Linked DNA regions of Homo sapiens. The protein of the gene in region 1 purifies or fractionates together with the protein of each later gene. This does not show direct contact. Each region holds a gene or a part of one and is shown on either strand. Other genes may lie near its edges.

Region 1 (7,621 bases):
TCCCTTATGTGTGTCTGTGTCTCTCTGCCCAAATTTCCATCCTTTTTTTCAGATGCAGTTTCGCTCTGTTTCCCAGGCTGGAGTGCAATGACGTGATCTCAGCTCACTGCAACCTCCGCTTCCCGGGTTCAAGTGATCCTCCTGCCTCAGCCTCCAGAATAGCTGGGATTACAGGTGCACACCACCACAACTGGCTAATTTTTGCATTTTTAGTAGAGACGGGGTTTCACTATGCTGGTCTTGAACTCCTGACCTCAAGTGATCCACCCGCCTCGGCCTCCCAAAGTGCAAATTCCAAGTTTGTTTTTTTTTTTTTTTTTGGAGTGCAGTGGCACGATCTCGGCTCACTGCAAGCTCCGCCTCCCGGGTTCATGCCATTCTCTTGCCTCAGCCTCCCAAGTAGCTGGGACTACAGGCACCCGCCACCACAGCCAGCTAATTTTTTTTTTTTTTTGTATTTTTAGTAGAGATGGGGTTTCACCATGTTAGCCAGGATGCCTCCCAAAGTGCTGGGATTATAGGCATGAGCCACCGCGCCCGGCCTTTTTTTTTTTCTGAGATGGAGTCTTGCTCTGTCGCCTAGGCTGGAGTGCACTGGCGCGATCTTGGCTCACTGCAAGCTCCGCCTCCTGGGTTCATGCCATTCTCCTGCCTCAGCCTCCCAAGTAGCTGGGACTACAGGCACCCGCCACCATGCCCAGCTAATTTTTTGTATTTTTAGTAGAGACGGGGTTTCACCATGTTAGCCAGGATGGTCTTGAACTCCTGACCTCGTGATCCGCCTGCCTCAGCCTCCCAAAGTGTTGGGATTACAGGCGTGAGCCACTGCGCCTGGCCGATTCCATGTCTTGTAAGGACAGCAGTCATCGGATTAGGGCAACCCCCCCCAATCCAGTGTAACCTCATTTTAATTTGATTATATCTACAAAGACCGTATTTCCAAATAAGGTCACATTTGCAGGTTACTGGGGTTAGGGCTTGAACACATCTTTTTGGGGGACAAAGTTCAACCCACAATGAGTAATTCAAATTTATTGTGGAAAAAATAGAAAATTCAGGGTGGGTGGGGTAGCTCATATCTGTAAACCCAGCACTTTGGGAGGTCGGGGTGGGAGGATCGCTTGAGGCCAGGAGTTTGAGACCAGCCTGGGCAACACAGTGAGACCCCATTTCTACAAAAAATTTTTCAATTAGCTGGGCATGATGGCATATACCTGTAGTTCCAGCTGCTCAGGAGGCTGAGATGGGAGGATGACTTGAGCTCAGGAGTTCAAGGTCACTTGAGCCCAGGAGTTTGAGACCAGCCTGGCCAACATGGTGAAACCCCGTCTCTACTAAAAATACAAAAATTAGCCGGGCATGGTGTCACATGCCTGTGATCCCAGCTACTCGGAAGGCTGAGGCAGGACAATCACTTGAACCCAGGAGGTGGAGGTTGCAGTGAGCCAAGATTGGTCCATTGCACTCCAGCCTGGGTAACAGAGCAAGACTCCATCTCAAAAAATAAAAAAATAAAAGATTGGGTGCAGTGGCTCACGTCTATAATCCTAGCATTTTGGGAGGCCGAGGCGGGTGAATCACCTGAGGTCAGGAGTTCGAGACCAGCCTGGCCAACATGGCAACCCCGTCTCTACTAGAAGTACAAAAATTAGCCGGACGTGGTGGCGGGCACCTATAATCCCAGCTACTCAGGAGGCTGAGGCAGGAGAATTGCTTGAACCTGGGTGGCAGAGGTTGCAGTGAGTCGAGATTGTGCCACTGCACTCCAGCCTGGGCAACAAGAGCAAAACTATGTCTCAAAGAAAAAAAAAAAAAGACACTGTCGCTGCCATCCTGGTTATTGGTTACATGCTCTCTCTCTCTCTCTCCCCCTTTCTCATAACATTTGCTCTGGAGGAAGCCGGTGGTCATGCCATGAGCAGCCTTATGGAGAGGACCATGTGGTAAGGAACTCAGCCAATAGCCATGTAACTGAGCTTGGAAGAGGATCTTGCTGTCCTGGCCAACATCTCACTGCAATTCTATCAGTTGAATTCCCTGGATAGTCCAAGCTTTGTGGATCCCTCCACCGAAACAACTGGATCCCAGTACCTGAATCCTGAATCTTAGACTCTTATACTTCAAACACTGATCACGGGAACAGCCGGCTCAGCGGCTCCTGAGTTCCTAATGCTCAGAATATGGGTGAGATGATAAATGTTTGTTGTGTTAAGCTGCCAACCTTTGGCGGGGGGGTAATTCGTCACATGGCAACAGCTGGCTAATACATATATACCTACATGTATATGATTTTGTCAGGTTTTTTGTTTGTTTGTTTGTTTGGTTTCGGTTTTGGTTTTTGAAACAGGGTTTCACTCTGTCCCCTCCCCAGGCTGGAATGCAGGGGTGCAATCATGGCTCACTGCAGCTTCAAACTCCCAGGCTCAGGTGATGCTCCCATCTCAGCCTCCGGAGTAGCTGGGACCACAGGCACACACCACCATGCCTGACTACTTTTTTTGTTTTTTAGAGACTGGGTCTTACTCTGTCACCCAGGCTGGAGTGCAGTGGCACAATCATAGCTCACTGCAGCCTCTAATTCCTGTGCTCAAGGGAGCCTCCCCCTTCAGCCTCCCAAGTAGCTGGGACTACAGGTGCACATGACCACACCTGGCTAATTTTAAAAAATTTTTGTAGAAAAATTTCTTGCTTTGCTGCCCAGGCTGGTCTTGAACTCCTGGACTCAAGTGATCCTCCCGCCTCAGCCTCCTGAGTAGCTGGGATTACAGGTATGCACCACCACACCCAGCTAATTTTCGTTATTTTTAGTAGACACGGGGTTTTATCATGTTGGCCAGGCTGGTCTCAAACTCCTGACCTCAGGTGATCCACCTGCCTTGGCCTCCCAAAGTGCTAGAATTACAGGTGTGAGCCACCACGCCCAGCCAAAAATAATTTTTAAAACTTAGCCGGGCGTGGTGTCCGCACCTGTGTTCCTAGCCACTCGGGTGGCTGAAGTGGGAGAACCACCTGAACAGAGAGGTCAAGGGGATTGACCTTAAGTGTGCCACTATACTCCAGCCTGGGTGACAGAGTGAGACCATTTCCCATCAGCTGTTTAGCAACCTTAATTCTTTTTTTTTTTTTCTTTTTTTTTTTTTTGAGACAGGGTCTCGCTCTGTCACCCAGGCTGGAGTTCAGTGGCAAGATCTCAGCTCACTGCAGCCTCCACCTCCCAAGCTCAAGCAACCCTCCCACCTCAGCCTCCTGTGTAGCTGGGACCACAGGCATGGACCACCATGCCCAGCTAATTTTTGTATTTTTTATAGAGACAGGGGTCTGGCCATGTTGCCCAGGGTGGTCTTGAACTCCTGGGCTCAAGTGATCCACCTGCCTTGACCTCCCAAAGTGCTGCTATTATAGGAATGAGCCACGGCGCCCAGCCTAGCAAAGTTTTGTTGTTGTTGTTGTTTGTTTGAGATGGAGTCTCGCTCTGTTGCCCAGGCTGCAGTGCAATGGCTCAATCTCGGCCCACTGCAACCTCTGTCTCCTGGGTTCAAGCAATTCTCCTGTCTCAGCCTCCAGAGTAGCTGAGATTACAGGGGCACACCACCAAACCTGGCTAATTTTTGTATTTTTAGGAGAGACTGGGTTTCACTATGTTAGTCAGGCTGGTCTCGAACTCCTGACCTCAGATGATCTGCCAACCTCGGCCTCCCAAAGTGCTGGGATTACAGGCGTCAGCCACCACATCAGGCCTAGCAACCTTATTTGTATCTGCAAACTTAATTCCCCTTTGCCATGTAACAAATGTAAGTCAGCCCAGGCTGCTATAAGGAAACACTAAAGAGCGGGGTCTTAAACTGCAGACATTTATTTCTGGAGGCTGGGAAATCCAAGGTTAAGGTGGCTGGCTAGCTCAGTTCCTGCTGAGGGATTTCTTCCTGCCATGCCTTCTTGCTGCGTCCTCCCATGGCAGACAGAGAGAGAGAAAGAGCTCTGGTTTGTCTTTTCCTTATAGGGAACTAATTCCATCTTGCAGGGGCCATCCTCATGAGTTCATCTAACCCTGAGGACCTCCCAAAGGCCCTGTCTCCAAATTCCAACCCACTGGGAAATAGGGCTTCAACATAAGAATTTTGCGGCCGGAAGCAGTGGCTCACGCCTGTAATCCCAGCACTTTGGGAGGCTGAGGTGGGCAGATCATGAGGTCAGGAGATCGAGACCATCCTGGCTAACACGGTGAAACCCCGTCTCTACTAAAAAATAAAAAAATTAGCTGGGCGTGGTGGCGGATGCCTGTAGTCCCAGCTACTCGGGAGGCTGAGGCAGGAGAATGGTGTGAACCCCAGAGGCGGAGCTTGCAGTGAGCCAAGATAGCGCCACTGCACTCCAGCCTGGGAGACTGAGCGAGACTCCGTCTCAAAAAAAACGATAATAATAATAATTTTGACAGGACACAATTCAATTTATAACGATAACATATTTATTGGTTTGGGGGATCAGGAGGTGGATACTTGGGGGAAGGGGGCCATCACGCTGCCCACCACACCTAGGAAGGTCACAGGGGCGTTTGTGACTTCATCCTCCTCTTGGTCCCCCACACAATCCTCCCACTAGACACTCCCGCATGGTAGCTGGAGCAGCAAACAACTGCTTAGGGATTTGAAGCCAGGTGTCCTAACTTCCTCCATGGGCGCTCAGCCTGGGGAACCTCAGAACACTTGCTCTAGGATCCAGACACTGTTTAGGAGGGTCAAGACCTTACTCATCAAAGCCCCGCCTCCCCCCCAACCTCCGCCTCCACCCCCATCCTGGAACCCTGGCTGTACACACGTGTATGGGTACGCGTTTGGCCACATGCATGACAACAACCTTGAACATCTCCCGTCACAGCAGGTGAGTTTAGGAAACACCAGTGTCCCGGCACCTCTGGTCAGGACTACAGGGAGAGGCCAGGCTACCCACGCCCTCTACAGGCCCACTCCCCTGCTAGCGGACCTAGAATTCCACCTTGAAGCAGGGTGGGGCAGGGAGGCAGGGCGCGATGGCTCCACACATGTAATCCCAGCACTTTGGGAGGTTGAGGTGGATGGGTCACTTGAGGACAGGAGTTCAAGACCAACCTGGCCAACATGCCGAAACCCTATCTCTACTAAAATTACAAAACTTAGCCAGGCATGGTGGTTGGCGCCTGTAGTACCAGCTACTCAGGAGGCTGAGGCAGGAGAATCGCTTGAACTCAGGAGGTAGAGGTTGCAGTGAGCCCAGATCTCATCACTGCACTCAAGCCAGAGCAACACAGCGAGATTCTGTCTCAAAAAATAAGAATAAATTAAGAGTCTAGATATAGTCCTAATTACATTTGTATTCCTCCTTGGATCCTCCATGAGTAACTTAGAGAGTCTATATTACATTGGCTGGGTGTGGTGGCTCACACCTGTAATCCCAGCACTTTGGGAGGCTGAGGCAGGTGGATCACCTGAGGTCAGGAGTTCAAGACCAGCCTGGCCAACATGGTGAAACCCTGCCTCTATTAAAATAATACAAAAATTTGCTCGGCACGTTGGCACTGTAATCCCAGCTACTGGGGAGGCTGAGGCAAGAGAATCACTTGAACCCAGGAGGCGGAGGTTGCAGTGAGCCGAGATCACACCATTGTCCCTACTTGGGAAGCTGAGACACGAGAATCGCTTGAACCAGGGGGACAGCGGTTGCAGTGAGCCAAGATCGCACCACTGTACTCCAGCTTGGGCGATAGAGTGAGACTCTGTCTAAAAAAAAACAAAAACAAAACAAAAAAAAACCAGGGGGGAGGGTTGAATCACTTGAGGTCAGGAGTTAGAGACCAGCCTGGCCAACATAGTGAAACCCATCTCTACTAAAAAAAAAAAAAAAAAAAAAAAAAAAAATTAGGTGTTGTGGTGCATGCCTATAATCCCAGCTACTCAGGAGGCTGCGGCAGGAACTGCTTGAACCTGGGAGGTGGAGGTTGCAACGAGCTGAGATTGTGCCACTGCACTCTAACCTGGGCAGCAGAGCAAGACTCCGTCTCGAAAAAAAAAAATGCAGACTTGGGGGAACAGGGTGGGTCTTTCACCAGGTGGGTGCCCTAGATGTGTGTCTGGGGAAGGTGCCCCAACCTGGCTGAGGATGAGGGAGGGCCGGGTCTGCCCTGCAGGTACTGGACACAGGAGAGCAGCTGATGGTCCCCGTGGAAGTCCTGGAAGTGGATAACAAGGAGGCCTTGTGGAAGTTTCTACTCTCAGGAGCTATGGCCGGGGCGGTGTCTCGCACGGGCACGGCACCTCTGGACAGAGCCAAGGTGTACATGCAGGTTTGTGTGGGTTGGGGGGAGGACGGGACCCAGCGCTGGAGCCACTGGGGAGAACGTGGGGTGAGGACAGATGGAGTTGACGTGGATGGAGTTCAGGATAGGAGTGCTGGCTGGAGTTGGGCTCTCCTGGACTAGCTGAGATTGAGGTTGTGGATGGTGATAGAGCTGGTGTGGACATGGCTTGGAGTCGAGTTTGAGGAGTTGAGAGAACTTGCCAGGGACAGGGACCAACGCTGGGCCAAGGTGGGGGTTGGAGGTCAGGGAATTGGGGATGGGGTCTTTGGACGAGTTTAAAGACAAGGTAGGGGCCAGGTGCAGTGGCTCATGCCTCTAATGCCAGCACTTTGGGAGGCCCAGGGGAGGTAGATCATCTGGGGTCAGGAGTTTGAGACCAGCCTGGCCAACATGGCGAAACCCTGTCTCTACTAAAAATACAAAAAAATTAGTCGGGCATGGTGGTGCGTGCCTGTAGTCCCAGCTACATAGGAGGCTGAGGCAGGAGAATTGCTTGAACCCAGGAGATGGAGGTTGCAGTGAGCCGAGATTGCATCACTGCACTCCAGCCTGGGCAACAGAGTGAGACTCTGTCTCAAAAAAGAAAGAAAAAAAAAAAAGGCAACATAGAACTGGAGCTACCTCAAGCAGGATATCTCACACCCATAGTCTCAGCTGCTCAGGAGGCTGAGGCAGGAGGATTGCTTGAGCCCAGGAGTTGGAGGCTGCAGTGAGCCATGATCATGCCACAAACTCCAGCCTGGGTGACAGAGCGAGATCCCTGGCTGAAAAAATAAACGGGTGCAGTGGCTCACTTTGGGAGGCCAAGGAGGGAGGATTACTTGAGCTTAGGAGTTTGAGACCAGCTGGGCAATATAGTCAGACCACATCTCTACAAAATAATAATTAATTAATTAATTAATTAAAAATTTAAAAAGGAGTCGGGCATGGTGACTCACACCTGTAATCCCAGCACTTTGGGAGGCCAAAGTGGGAAGATCGCTTGAGCCCAAGAGTTTGAGACCAGCCTGGGCAACATAGTAAGACCCCATCTATACAAAAAATTTTACAAAATTAGCCTGCCATGGTAGCACGCACCTGTAGTCCCAGCTACTTGGAAGGCTGAGGTGGGAGGATCACTTGAGCCCAGGAGTTTGGGGCTGCAGTGAGCTGTGATTGCACCACTGCATTCCGGCCTGGGCAACAGAACAAGATCCTGTCTCGAAAACATAAACAAACAAAAAAACAAGAAAGAAAAGGAAAAGAAGGCCAGGCGCGGTGGCTGATGCCTGTAATCCCAGCAATTTGGGG
Region 2 (7,469 bases), on another chromosome or scaffold:
ACCATGCCCGGCTAATGTTTTGTATTTTGGTAGAGATTGGGTTTCACCATGTTAGCCAGGATGGTCTCGATCTCCTGACCTTGTGATCCACCCTCCTCGGCCTCCCAAAGCACTGGGATTACAAACATGAGCCACAGCGCCCAGCCTTTTTCAGTTTCTTAAGGTGGAAGCTTAGATTATTTATCATGTCCTTTATTTTCTAATGTGAGCCTTGTAATGCTATAAACATTCCTGTGAACACTGCTTTGGCTGCATCCTATGAATTTTGGTACATTTAAATTGTTATTCAGCTCAAAATATTTTCAAATTTATCTTGAGACTTCCGTTTTGTCCAATGGGTTATTTTAAAGCATATTGTGTTATGATTTAATTCTGATATAGTCAGAGAACATATTTTATATGATTTCTGTTATATTGTTTAAAGATTTCAAGCCTAGGCAACATAGCAAGACCCCGTTTCTACAAAAAAAAAAAAAAAAAAAATTTAAATTAGCCAGGCATGGTCGCAGCTACCCAGGTGGCTGAGGCGGGAGGATTGCTTGAACTCCAGAGGTCAAGGCTGCAGTGAGCCATGATTGTGCCACTGCACTCTAGCTCTGTCACCTAGTGCAGTGGTGCAATCACAGCTCACTGCAGTCTCAACCTCCTGAGTTCAAGCAGTCCTAAGCAATCCTCATGCCTCAGTCACCACACATGGCCTTTTTTTTCTTTGGTAGAGATGGAGCTCTTGCTATGTTGCCCACGCTGGTCTCCAACTCCTGGCCTCATGCAATTCTCCCACCTCAATCTCCCAAAGTATTAGGATGACAGGCATGAGCTGCTGTGCCTGGCCTCACACTTTTGTTAAGGATTTCAAACTTTTGTTAAAGTTTGTTTTATGGCCAAGAATATAGTTTATCTTGGTGGATGTTCCATGTACACTTGGTCTAGAAAACTAGAGATCAATATCCTTCTGGAATATAGATGCAAAATTCCTCAAGAAAACAACAAAATGAATCCAGTAATATATAAAAAGTGTAATACATCACTATAAGTGGAATATATCCCAGGAATGCAAGGCTGTTTCAACCTATGAAAATCAGTGTAATTCAATCCATCATATTAACAGTAAAGAAAAATCACATGATCATTTTATGCAGAAAAAACAAGAAACAAATTCAACATTCACTCATGACCCAAAAACCCTCCCAAATTTGACAAATTAGAAATGTAAGAGATCTTTTGGGTGGCAAGGGGTTTCTGCAAAAACCCCTCAGCTGACATCATACTTAATGCTGAAGGACTGAATGCTTTTCCCCTATGATTGGAAAGAAGGCCATGGTGTGCATGCTAACCATTTCTGTTCAGCATTACACTGAAGCCCTGGCCAGTTCGATAAAGCAAGAAAAAACTAGAAAGCCAGACACATTAGAAAGGAAGAAATAAAACATACTATTCACAGAAAACAGGATTGTAGAAAATCCCGTGAAATCTACCAAAAACTTCCTAAGACTAAGAAGTGAGTTTAGCAAAGACACAGGCTCCAGGGTAAATATACTAACATCAGTTACACTTTTGTAATAGCAATAAACAATTGGAAATTAAACCATAAAAAACTACCATCTGTAATGGCACTCCAAAAATGAAATGATTAGGTATAAATTAGAAAGATATATGTAGGATGTGTATGCTGAAAACTTCAAAGTACTGATGAAAGAAATCAATGAAGATCTAAATAAGTGGAGAGATATACCATGTTCATAAATTCTGGTGTCAATTCTTCCAGGTTACAGGTCTACAGATTTAATGTAATCCCCATCAAAATCACAGCTGGATATTTTTTAAGATAGTGACAAGCTGAAACTCAAATTTATAGGAAAAGTCAAAAGAATTTGGATAGCCTAGGTAATTTGGAGAAAGAAGAACAAAGGACTCAAAACCTGATTTCAGGATTGACTCTAGGCCAGGTGCAGTGGCTCATGCCTGTAATCCCAGCACTTTGGGAGGTGAAGGTGGGAGAATTGCTTGAGCCTAGGAATTTGAGACTAGCCTGGGCAACATGTGAGACCCCATCTCTGCAACAACAACAACAACAAAAACACTAATCAAGACAATGTGGTAGGCCGGGCGCGGTGGCTCACGCCTGTAATCCCAGCACTTTGGGAGGCCAAGGCGGGCGGATCACGAGGTCAGGAGATCGAGACCATCCTGGCTAACACGGTGAAACCCCGTCTCTACTGAAAATACAAAAAAATTAGCCAGGCGTGGTGGCGGGCACCTGTAGTCCCAGCTACTCGGGAGGCTGAGGCAGAAGAATGGCGTGAACCCGGGAGGCGGAGCTTGCAGTGAGCTGAGATCGCGCCACTATGCTCCAGCCTGGGCAAAAATGCGAGACTCTGTTTCAAAAAAATAATAATAAATAAATAAATAAATAAGTAAACAAATAAAACCAATCCCTGACAATACCAAGAGCTGAGGAGGATGGGGAGCAACTGCAACACCTGTGGCACTGGTGGGAGCGTAGAGCTGTACAACTTCTTTGGAAAATAGCTTAGTAGGCCGATGTGGTGGCCCACGCCTGTAATCCCAGCACTTTGGGAGACCGAGGTGGGTGGATCACCTGAAGTCAGCAGTTCAAGACCAGCCTGGCCAATATGACAAAACCCTGTCTCTACTAAAAATACAAAAATTAGCCTGGCATGGTGACATGTGCCTGTAATACCAGCTACTCGGGAGGCTGAGGCAGGAGAATTGCTTGAGCCCAGGAAGTGGAGTTTGCAGTGAGCCAAGATCATGCCATTGCACTCCAGCCTGGGCGACAGAGGGAGACTCCATCTCGGAAAAAAAAGGAAAAAAAAGAAAAAGAAAATAGCTTGGCGGTTTCCTTTTTTTTTTCTTTTTCTTTTTTTTGAGATGGAGTCTTGCTCTGTCGCTCAGGCTGGAGTGCAGTGGTGATCTCCGCTCACCGCAATCTCTGCCTCCTGGGGTCAAGCGATTCTCCTGACTCAGCCTCCTGAGTAGCTGGGATTATAGGCAGACGCCACCAGGCACGGGTAATTTTTTTGTATTTTTACTAGAGACGGGGTTTTGCCATGTTGGCCAGGGTGATCTCGAACTCCTGACCTCAGGTGATCCGCCCACCTCAGTGTCCCAAAGTTCTGGAATTACAGGTGGGACCCACTGCGCCCGGCCGGCAGTTTCTTATAAACAATCATTTGATCCAGCAACCCCACTCCTGGGTATTTACACAAGAGAAATGAAAAGTTGTGTCCACACAGAAGCCGATGAGTGAATGTTTATGGCAGCGTCATTCATAATTGCCAAGCACCAGGAACAATCTCTGCGTCCTTCATTTGATGAATAAAACCATCAATAAATAAAACCATCTGAACCGGTGGTTCACACCGGTTACAGGATACCACTCAGCAATAAAGAGGAACCAGCATGAATCTCAAAATGCGAAGTGGTAGAAGCCAGACCCACAGGCGCGCTGCGCGACATCCCTTTTGTGTGACATTCTGGAAAAGGCTGCCTCTAGGGATGGAGAACAGAGAGAACTGAGCAGCCGCCACCAGCAGTCAGCAGGTACGGGATCCGGAGGGAGAATGTTCTGTAACTAAAGTTACACAACTCCACTGCACACCAAAAAATGTGGATTTTACTGAAACCAAACTTTTTATTTTACAGAGCACTGGACTTTTTAAAAAGCGGGGGCAGGGGAGACCAGTGTGCTGTGACTTTTAGGGGAAGGATGGCTTCCCTGGAGAGGACCTGGGCGGAATCCCCAGGGCTCCCGGAGAGAGGGGGAGTCACAGAGCGGCTACGCACGGGGCGCAGCGTTAAAACTTTGGAGAAGGAAAAAAAACAACAAAGCAGCGCGAAGGGAAGGAGGTCAGGGAGGTTAGCAAGGCGCCCACACGCCCTCGCAGTCGTACTGAGTAACGAGGGGAGTCGCGCACGTGGGTGGGGACAGAGCGGCCTAGGACACTGGGGGAGCCCCGGGCCGCGGGAGTGCGGCGGCCTGGGGGTGTCGGGGAGCCGAGCCGAGGCCGCGTGCTCCTCGCGCCCTCCCTGGTGTCTCCTCCCCAGGCCCTGCGTGCCCCGCCCACACCTGCCTTGCCCCGCCCACATCTGCCTCGCCCTACTCGCCCATCACACCCCCACCTCACGCCCCGCCCACAACCGCTGGGGCCCCGCCCCTGCCCGGCCAGCTCCTCCCGCCGCCCTCGGTCCCCCGCCCCCTATATGACCCGCCCCTTTCCAGCCGCGTCCAATCGGCCGCTCTCTGTAGTCGCGTCCCTCAGCCATCCGCCGCTCCTCCCACGCTTGAACTTCCCGAAGGACAGCCGAGCGGCCCAATGAGCTCCCGGGACGGCCTGAGCGGGAGCGTGAAGGGCCAATCCGGAGTCGGCGCGCGCAGGAAAGGCGGGCCGGCGTGACGGGCTGGGGAGGTGGTGCCAGGCTGGTTGCTAGCTGCCGCCGCTGCTCACCCCGGCCGTCCGGCCGCTTCATTGTCACCGGGCCTCGGGGCAGTGTTGGGGGTGGCGGGGCGCCAGGTCGCCGACCCGAGGTTTGGGCGCGACTGGTTCCGCATCCCCTCCCCGCCGGCCGAATCTGCAGGCCCCGCGCGCCAGGCAGGCTTCGCGGCTGCGCCCCCGGCCCGCGCAGGTGAGGGGGGCCCGGGCAAGGGAGGGGGTTGCAGGGCGCACGGAGGTTGGAGGGGTCCGGAGCCCGCGCAGGTGGGAGGCCCTGGTCCAGTGATGAAGTGATGGGGATCCGGGGCACGCACAGGTGAGTGGGGGGATCTGGTGCCCGCGCAATTGAAGGCGGGATCCGGGGGAAGTGAGGGGGATCCAGGGTGCGCACAGGTGAGGGAGGTCCGGGGCCCGCGCAGGTGAAGACAGGCTCGTGCCTGAGGGTGTGGGTCCCCACCTCCATCCCCTCCACCCTCTCCACCTCCCTCCACTCCCCTCCGGTCCCCAGGACAACATGGAGTCCAGTCCCGGCATCTCTGGCCCGGCTGCCTTAAGCCCTGGGGAAAATGGGGAGATGGGAGCTGCCCTGAGGACAAGTGGAGGGCTCTGCTCTGCGCGTGGGCTCTGGCCTCTCTGTCCAGGGTCAGGGTCAGGGTCAGGGTCAGCCCACCCTGGGAACCAGGTCCTGGCGCTGGTCATCAGTCCCCGCCCCTTCAGGTCCTGGGAGGGACACAGTTTTATCCAAGATGTAGTGGCCTCCCAGGCCTCCCTTCTTCTGGCTTGGAGGTTTCCATGGAGAGGCCCCGTTCGCCATCCCAGAGCCGCTTGCAAGTGTGGCTGGGAGAGCAGAGTCCTGGGCTCCAAGGGCTTGCATGGGTCCAGCCAGGGGTGGACAGTGCCCTGCAGGAGGAGGGTGTTAAGTTTCTTCCGCACAGCCGGAAGTGCATAACTGAGGACTGGGACCTGGTCAGTGGCAGGGTCAGCCTCTAGGGAGTAGGGGTATCCATCGCTCCGTGGAAGGGACCTTGGGGGACCTGCTGTGGGGTGCCGGGCTGAAGGAAGCCCAGGGTGACCTTGGGCGATAGGCTGGGTGCCTGCTGGCCTACTGGAGGCCACCGTGGCAGGGAGGTAATTCTCGAGGTTGGTCCCTGGCGCCAGCTTCTCCCGTTCATCTACGGGTTCAGCTGAGTGCCTTTCCCTGCAGGTGCTGGGGTTGCTCAGGAGCCACACAATTCATAAACCAACTGTGTGCGGCCACAGGAAGGGAGTCCGAGCCGGATGGGGAGTGAAGAGTGATGGGTGCTCAAGGAAGGCCTCTGAGTGCAGGGAGGGAGTGTCCTGAGACCTAGAGGCAGGGGACTGGCCGGGGCCAAGCTGGCTGAGTTTGAGGAGAACCAGGGAGGCTGTGTTGGCTAAAGCCACAACAAAGGGGCACAGCAGGGGAGCTGGCGAGGTCACAGAGAGTACAGGGCCAGATCTTGCAGGAGTTGGATGTGTAGACTTTATTCTCTGTGCCTAGGAAGCTGTTGCAGGGTTTTTGGCAGGGGCACATGCACGAGCTGAGACCCGTTCAGAAAGATCAGAAAGACTCGTTCAGAAAGAGGTGCCATGTGGGGACGGGCTGGGGGCCGGCAGGGTTTGCTCTGAGAAGTTCCAAAGTAAGGAAGCCAGCATCCCCAAGCTAATCCCCTCGATCGATCGTCAGAACCCCCGTCCCCTGCTGGAATAACACATTACCCAGGGAGTGTTTGCCCGGTGCAGCCTTGAGGCCTTGAGACCAGCATCTTGTCTGGACCTCACAAAACCACTCCCGCGTTTTTTTTTTTTTTTTTTTTTTGAGATGGAGTCTCGCTATGTTGCCCAGGCTGGAGTGCAGTGTCACGATCTTGGCTCACTGTAAACTCCGCCTACCAGGTTCAAGTAATTCCCCTGCTTCAGCCTCCCAAGTAGTTGGGATTACAGGCGCTCGCCACCACGCCCGGCTAATTTTTTGAAGTTTTTAGTAGAGGTGGGGTTTCACTGTGTTGCTTAGGCTGGTCTTGAACTCCTGAGCTCAGGCAATCTGCCTGCCTTGGTCTCCCAAAGTGCTGGGATTACAGGAGTGAGCCACTGTGCCCGGCCAACACGCAACCCCTTTTTAAAATGTGTATTTTTACTTAGGGGCCGGGTACGGTGGCTCATGCCTGTAATCCCAGCACTTTGGGAGGCCGAGGCAGGCGAATCACCTGAGGTCAGGAGTTCGAGACCAGCCTGGCCAACATGGCAAAACCCCGTTTCTACTTCTACTAAAAATACAAAAATTAGCCAGGCGTGGTGGCGGGCACCTGTAATCCCAGCTACTCAGGAGGCTGAGGCAGGAGAATCGCTTGAACCCGGGAGGCAGAGGTGGCAATGAGCCGAGATCGCGCCACTGCACTCCAGCCTGGGTGACAAGAACGAGACTCTGTTTCAAAAACATAATAAAATAAAAAATAAATCAAATGTCCCTTTTACAGAAGAAAACAGTGGGGCTCGGGGCAGTGACTTTCTCAGAATCACGGTGTGGGGTAGATGGCAGAACCTGGCTCACATCGACAATGGCCTGTGGCCCAGGCTCCCTCTGGGGTGCTGCTGGCTTATTCCCACCCACGGGCCTTGCCCTCGCCACCCACCTGTCCATCATCCAGGGCCCTCCTGCCCTGGCATACACTGACATTGGGCTCAGAACAGCTCCCTCATGTTCCTGTCGAGGAGCCTGCCACCAGCCAGAGGGGTGCATAGGTTGTGACAGGCCTTCCCAGGAAGTTTGGTGGCCAGTGGACCCAGCTGAGGCTGGGCTGGAGATGGTGGGTGCAGGGGACTGTAGTTCCCCCACGGCATCTCATTGCAGCTCTTGCTTCCCCGCTCAGGACCTGCCTTGTCCACCATGAAAGGCACCCGGGCCATCGGCAGCGTCCCGGAGCGCAGCCCAGCAGGTGTGGACCTGAGTCTGACAGGTCTCCCTCCGCCTGTGTCCCGGCGTCCTGGCAGTGCCGC
Region 3 (7,022 bases), about 43 Mb from region 1:
AGCTGGGATTACAGGCACCCGCCACCACGCTTGGCTAATTTTTGTATTTTTAGTAGACGCAGGGTTTCCCCATGTTGGCCAGGCTGGTCTCGAACTCCCAACCTCAAGTGATCTGCCCGCCTTGGCCTCCCAAAGTGCTGGCATTATAAGCGTGAGCCACTGCACCCAGCCTGGGATACAACTTGAAGGAAAAACTGTCAGGATTTGCAAAGGGATTTGATGATGGGGGTTGGGGAAGGAAAGAGATCGTCCCGTCACTGCAGGACCCCAGAGACGAGCCAGAGGACAGAGGGGAGATGCAGGCTTGGGGCACTGGTAGTAATTTAGCCACAGGAATTAGGGCTGGAGAATCAGGAGCCTTTTCTTAGCAAGCGTATGTTGAACGGCTGGTATGTCTCAAGAATTGTGCTGAATGCTGGGGACACTGGTGAACAGGACAGACTTGTCCACCCCCTCCATGAAGCTCCCAGCCCTGTGGGGGAGAAGGTGCAACATACAAATTGCAGTAGTCCTTCACACTAATACCTGGACACGGATGTTCACTGCAACATTATTCATGATAGCCGGAAAACAGAAACGGGCCAAATGCCCATCAACTGAGAAATAAAGTGTGGTCTATGTAGTGGAATATTACCGGGCCTTAAAAAATAATGACGTCCTGCTACATGCTGCCACAGGGATGGACCTTGAAAACATGACACCAAGTGAAAGAAGCCAGACACAGGAGGCCACGTGTTGTATGATTCCATGTTGATAGAGTATCTTGAATAGGCAGATCCATGGAGACAGAAAGATTAGTGGTTGCCTAGAGTAGGGGCTGGTGGGATGGGGAGTGACTGCTCATGAATGCATAGGTTCTTTTTTTATTTTTTGAGATGGAGTCTCACTCTGTCGCCCAGGCTGGAGTGCAATGGGGTGATCTCGGCTTACTGCAACCTCTGCCTCCCAAGTTCAGGCGATTCTCCTGCCTCAGCTTCCTGAGTAGCTGGGATTACAGGCGTGTGCCACCACACCTGGCTAATTTTTGTACTTTTAGTAGAGACGGGGTTTTTACATGTTGGTCAGGATGGTCTCGAACTCCTGGCCTCAGGTGATCCACTACCCCAGCCTTCCAAAGTGCTAGGATTACAGGTGTGAGCTACCATGCCCGGCAGCATTCAGAGCTTCTTTTGGGTTCATGAAAAAGCCTACAGCTGGACACGGCACATGCTTGTAGTCCCAGCTACTTGGGAGACTGAGGTAGGAGGATCATTTGAACCCAGGAGTTCGAATCCAGCCCGGGCCACATAGTGAAACCTCATCTCTTAAAAAAAAAAAAAAAAAAAAAAAGAAAGGTCCTGGAATTCGATAGTAGTAATGGTTGCACAACATCATGAATGTACTAAAGAACGCTGAATTGTTCACTGTAAAAGGGTCAATTTTATGGTATGTGAATTGTATCTCTTTTTTTTTGTGACAGTCACAAAAATGGCGCGATCTTGGCTCACTGCACCCTCCATTTCCCAGGTTCAAGCGATTCTCCTGCCTCAGCCTCCCGAGTAGCTGGGATTATAGGCGCCCGCCACTATGCCCCGCTGATTTTTGTATTTTTAGTAGAGACAGGGTTTCACCATGTTGGCCAGGCTGGTCTCGAACTCCTGATCTCGAGTGATCTGCCTGCTTCAGCCTCACAAAATGCTGAGATTACAGGTGTGAGCCACCGCGCCTGGCCGTATCTCGATTTTTTTTTAAATGGGGAAAGAATTTGCAGCTGTCCTAAGCCCAGTGAGGAAGAGGGCCATGGTGTTGAGAGAATGGGGATTCTGTGTGGTCAGCGAGCTGCGGCCTGGCTTTGCTTCACAAGAGACCTTTGGAGCTGTGTGGGCAGGAAGTAGGGGAGTTACCTAGGCTGAGGGCAGTGAGAAGAGCTGTGAAGGCAGAGGCGGGGCAAGTGCAAAGGTCCTGACTTCCGGACGCCATGGCGGGCATCTCTATCTAGTCCCAGCTACTCAGGAGGTGGAGGCAGAAGGATTGCTTGAGGCCAGGAATTTGAGACCAGCCTTGGCAACATAGCAAGACCCTGTCTCTCTTTCTTTTTTTTGACAGAGTCTGGCTCTGTCATCCCGGCTGGAGTACAGTGGTGCGATCTCAGCTCGCTGCAACCTCCTCCTCCTGGGATCAAGCTATCCTCCCGCCTCAGCCTCCTAAGTAGCTGGGACTATAGGCACATGCCATCATGCCCAGCAAATTTTTTTGTATTTTTCATAGAGTTTTTTTTTTTTTTTTTTTTTTTTTTTTTTTGAGATGGAGTCTTGCTCTGTCGCCCAGGCTGGAGTGCAGTGGCGCGATCTCCGCTCACTGCAAGCTCCACCTCCCGGGTTCACGGAGATGGGTTTTTATTATGTTGCCCGGGCTGGTCTCAAATTCCTGGGCTCAAGTGATCTGCCTACCTCGGCCTCCCGAAGTGCTGGGATTACAGGAGTGAGGCTCAGTGCCTGGCCCCCTTCTCTATTTTCAAGAATTCTTTTTTTTTTTTGGAAACGGAGTCTCGCTCTGTCCCCCAGGCTGGAGTGCGGTGGTGCGATCTCGGCTCACTGCAAGTTCTGCCTCCCGGGTTCATGCCATTCTCCTGCCTCAGCCTCCCGAGTAGCTGGGACTACAGGCGCCCGCCAACACGCCCGGCTAATTTTTTGTATTTTTTTTTTAGTAGAGATGGGGTTTCACTGTGTTAGCCAGGATGGCCTCAATCTCCTGACCTCGTGATCCGCCCGTCTCGGCCTCCCAAAGTGCTGGGATTACAGGCGTGAGCCACCGCGCCCGGCCCAAGAATTCTTTCTGGAAACAAAAAAAGGCCCTGATGCCCCAGTGAGACCCTGAGAAAAGGGCTGTGTGGCTGGTGCAGAGAGGGATGGGATCTGACGCTGGGGAGTGGGCAGAGGCTAGGTCCGTGTTTGTCCTGAGAGCTCTGGAGAAGGTTTCAAGCAGGAGCGAGGGAAGAGAAGGGCGGAGGGATGCGGAGGAGGAGGTGGGGAGAGGCAGGGCTCAGAGAGCAGCAGAGGGAAGAGTGTGGAGCCAGCCAGCAGGAGGATCTGAAGGGCACAGTGGGGCTATGGGGAAGGGTCTAGAAGGTGAAAGGCAGGCTCTAAGGAGGGCAGGGAGGGCAAATTCTGCAGATAAGGAGGGGGAGAGGTTGAGGCTGGGCCCAGCCCGAGGGCGTGTTCTGTCCTGTCTGCAGCAGGAATACAGCAGAAGTATTATCTCACAGGGAGCAAGGGCTGGGGCTGCCTCCTATCTAGGCAGAGTCTGGCTGGAGTGGGCCTTAGGAGAGTTGGACGAGTGAGCCAATGGGAGCGGGGTGCTGGCTGCACACTGCCCTGAGCTCTTCCATCAGAGCACATCCCACTCCAAATGGTGATCCACTGCAGTGGTGACATCGAGCCCAGGCCCTGGGTCTCACTCCAGCTTTGTCCTCTGTAGGTTCTAGCCCATGGGAGGCCTCAGGAGATGATTGCCAGTTGAATGAATGAATGAATGATGGAACCAGTCTTTCTTGAGTTCCAGCTGGGTGCCAGGCACTGTTCTAGGTGATGGGGCTACAGCAGTGAGCAGAAGTTCCTGCCCTAGGGTGCTCACGTTCTAGAGAGGAGATGGTCCACTACACAGGTGAATATTTTGGGGGCCGGACAGGTGGGAGTAGGTGTTGATGGAAAATGAGGCAAGGAAAGGGCTTGGGGATGGAGTTAAGGATGATGCTCTTATATAGGCTGGTCAGAGAGTGTCGCTGAAAAGGTGGCATTGGAGCAGAGAATCTAACTAAGTGGGGGAATGGTGCATGCATGACTCTGGAAGAGGGAGCTGCCTGTGCAAAGGCCCTGAGGCAGGATTGTGCTTGTAGTGGAGCAGGGACTTAGGAGGAGGAGAGGGCAGCTCCTGCCTTGGAGAGAGAGGACAGGAGAACCGGCCAGAGAGGGAACAGGGTAGATGGTGCAGGCCCTTGTGGGCTGCAGTGAGAACTTTACTTTTACTTCGAACTTGCTGGGAGCCATGGAAGGGGTTTGGAGGAGTGCTGGGGTCTGACTCAAGTTTTCACATGATCCCTCTGGCCTCTGTGAAGAGCACAGGAAGTCAAACAGATTTCAATTTGGTATCCCTTAAGAACGGGACAGATGCAGGCCTGAGCCCCAGCCCCACCCGTTTCCAGCTGGTTATTGTGTGATGGCTTTGGTCCACAAATCCGCATTCAACACCTCCCCTGTGCCAGGCTGCCCTGGGCCCTGGGAACACTGTGGGGACTGAAGCAGCCGTACATCCCTGGCCTCATGGCACTGGTGTTCCGATCCAGGAGGAAATGAACATGCAAACCCTTAATATGTAAGGAGGCAACTCAGGCAGGGTCTTGGTGGCCCAAATAGTTCGCCCTGCTGAGCAGGGGGGCTGACCAGGAGAATGAGAGGGTTTGATTTTGTTATTTACGAAGAATATATTTTCATCACCCAGGAATAGTGATGACCTTGAGAATATGAGTGGTGTAACCCAGCACCAAAATGCAAGCCATATATATGTTGAAATTTTCTTTTTTTTTTCTTTTTTTGAGACGGAGTCTTGCTCTGTCCACGCCCGGCATATGTTGAAATTTTCTTGCCACATTGCAAAAGCAAAACAGGGGCCAGGTATGGTGGCTCACGCCTGTAATCCCAGCACTTTGGGAGGCCGAGGCAGGCGGATCACGAGGTCAGGAGTTTGAGACCAACCTGGCCAACATAGTGAAACTCCGTCTCTACTAAAAATACACAAATTAGCTGGGCCTCGTGGCACACCTGTAGTCCTAGCCACTCGGGAGGCTGAGGCAGGAGAATCGCTTGAACCCAGGAGGTGGAGGTTGCAGTGAGCCGAGATTGTGCCACTGCGCTCCAGCCTGGGTGACAGAGAGAGACTTTGTCTCAAAAAAAAAAAAAAAGCAAAACAGGCTGAGCATGGCAGCTCACGCCTGTAATCCCAGCACTTTGTGGGGCCGAGGCGGGCAGTTTGGTTGAGCCCAGGAGTTTGAGAACAGCCTAGGCAACAAGATCCTGTCTCTCCCCACCACAAAAAAACTTTTAAAATTAGCCACGCATGGTGGCATGCACCTGTAGTCCTAGCTTCTTCGGAGGCTGAGATGGGACGATCGCTTGAGCCCAGGAGGTCGAGGTTGCAATGAGTCAAGATCGCACCACCACACTCCAGCCTGGACAATACAGCAAGACCCTGTCTCCATATATTTTTTAAAAAAGCAAAATAATCAGTGAAATTCATTTTAATATATTTTCTTTACCCTAGTATATCCAAACTATTATTTCAGTGTGTAACCAGTGTTTTTTGAGATGGAGTCTTGCTGTATGGCCCAGGCTGAGTGCAGTGTCAGGATCTCAGCTCACTGCAACCTCTACCTCCCAGGTTCAAGCGATTCTCCTGCCTCAGCCTCCCTAGTAGCTGGGACTACAGGTGTGCACCACCATGCCCGGCTAATTTTTGTATTTTTAGTAGATATGGGATTTTGCCATGTTGGCCAGGCTGGTCCCAAACTCCTGACCTCAAGTGATCCACCTGCCTCGGCCTCCCAAAGTGCTGGGATTACAGGTATGAGCCTGTGTTACCCAGGCTGGTCTCAGATTCCTGGGCTCAAGTGATCTGCCTGTCTCAGCCTCCCAAAGTGCTGGGATTAGAGGCGGGAGGCATTGCACCCAGCCTTCAGAAGGCTTTCTGAGGATTCAGGGCTGCTGGGGCTTGTACAGGAAGCACATCAGGTCTCGGTCTCTGTAGAGGAAATGTCCTTGGTCTAGAAGGCTCTGAAGGCCTTTGCGGTGAGATGCTGGGTGATGCCTGTGTTACCTTCATAAATGCACATTAGTCCCTCCAGGGCAGGGCCCAGGTTTGACAGGATGCCTTTGCTGGTAGTAACAGACCCACCCTGATCTGGGGCTTACATGTTTAGGGAAGGCGTTATCTCCCCTAACCAGAAGCTCCAAGGTAAGGCAGCTCCCTGGCCCCGTCAGCACTTCCCTTGACTCTGCCTTACTCTGCCTGGAGCAAGATGTTGGCCGCCTTCGCACCCGAACACCCCTCACGGCAACAGCCACTGGACGGAGCACGGCCTGCCCCTCCCATGGCCCCCCCCAGCACCTCAGAAAACTCTGGAGAGGCTGCGTGGTCTGGCCCCACCTGCTGTGCTCTTCTCCACCCGCCCCCGCCGCCGCCCGCATCCTCAGACTCTGTGCCTCTTTCATCACCGTCCGCCTGCCTTGCCTCATGCTGTCCTACCTCCAGGCCATTGCACCTGCTGGTCCTCCTGCCTGGAGCGCGCCTCCCCTTGTTTCTGCCTGGTCCATTTCAGCCTCATCTTTTGATCCTCAGATCCCAGCAGCTGTGTGCAGAGAAGCCTTCCCCGTCCCCTGCGCCATTCTCATTTTAGCCTCTCAGCCCCGAAATGTGTATACCTCTTTCAGAATACTTGCCACTGTCCCTGTCTGCCACCACTCCAATCCAGGGATGCCTCGAGAGCAGGGTAGATGTGACTCATCCTTAAGCCTGGCCCCAGAAATCCCATTGTGAATGAGAGAATCCCTTTAAAACTCTCTCACAGGCTTGCTTGCCTCCTGTGACAGTGAGCTCATTCCCCCTGTTGCTGGCCCTGAATGCCGGGTCATTCTTCCCATGATCCTGGTCTGTCAGAGCTGCCTCAGCCCTTTCCCCAGGCACCACCCCAGTAGCACCCATACAGTATCCCTGGGCTCCCTGGCCATCACGGGCCTTTAGATCTTTGCAGAGCTGGGCCTCTGCCAGAGCCCTCCCTTTGGGGCCACAACTGCTCCTGTTTTGAAGACCGAGAGCTTTTCTTCTCTCTCTGAATTCCTTTTTTTATAGCAAATTATACCAGTTATGCAGAAGATAGCATCAAATAGATGTGGACCATTTAAAGCCTATTTAAAGGCCAGGTGCAGTGGCTCATGCCTGTAATCCTAGCACTTTACTTTGGGAGGCTGAGGCGGGTGGATCACTTGAGGTCA

Evidence for each region. Proteins that work in one complex are often made in the same cells at the same time.
Region 2: the proteins of SLC25A41 (region 1) and CEP131 purify together in Homo sapiens (affinity purification with mass spectrometry; 3 studies listed by BioGRID and IntAct, with this or other methods). This does not show direct contact.
Region 3: the proteins of SLC25A41 (region 1) and AP2A1 purify together in Homo sapiens (affinity purification with mass spectrometry; 3 studies listed by BioGRID and IntAct, with this or other methods). This does not show direct contact.

Annotation. Positions count from the first base shown.
Region 1 is NC_000019.10:6,430,744-6,438,364, reverse strand, and holds the start of SLC25A41 (mitochondrial carrier protein SCaMC-3L), read left to right. Parts: upstream 1-4,601; 5' UTR 4,602-4,671; coding exon 4,672-4,878; intron 4,879-6,160; coding exon 6,161-6,316; intron 6,317-7,621. Other genes in the region: mitochondrial adenyl nucleotide antiporter SLC25A23, read left to right, coding at 1,901-2,045. UniProt on the Homo sapiens protein: Calcium-independent ATP-Mg/Pi exchanger that catalyzes the electroneutral exchange of Mg-ATP or free ADP against an hydrogenphosphate and participates in the net transport of adenine nucleotides across the mitochondria inner membrane.
Region 2 is NC_000017.11:81,219,947-81,227,415, reverse strand, and holds the start of CEP131 (centrosomal protein of 131 kDa), read left to right. Parts: upstream 1-4,450; 5' UTR 4,451-4,647; exon of another isoform or gene 4,648-4,770; intron 4,771-7,342; 5' UTR 7,343-7,359; coding exon 7,360-7,469. UniProt on the Homo sapiens protein: Component of centriolar satellites contributing to the building of a complex and dynamic network required to regulate cilia/flagellum formation.
Region 3 is NC_000019.10:49,769,998-49,777,019, forward strand, and holds part of AP2A1 (AP-2 complex subunit alpha-1), read left to right. Parts: intron 1-7,022.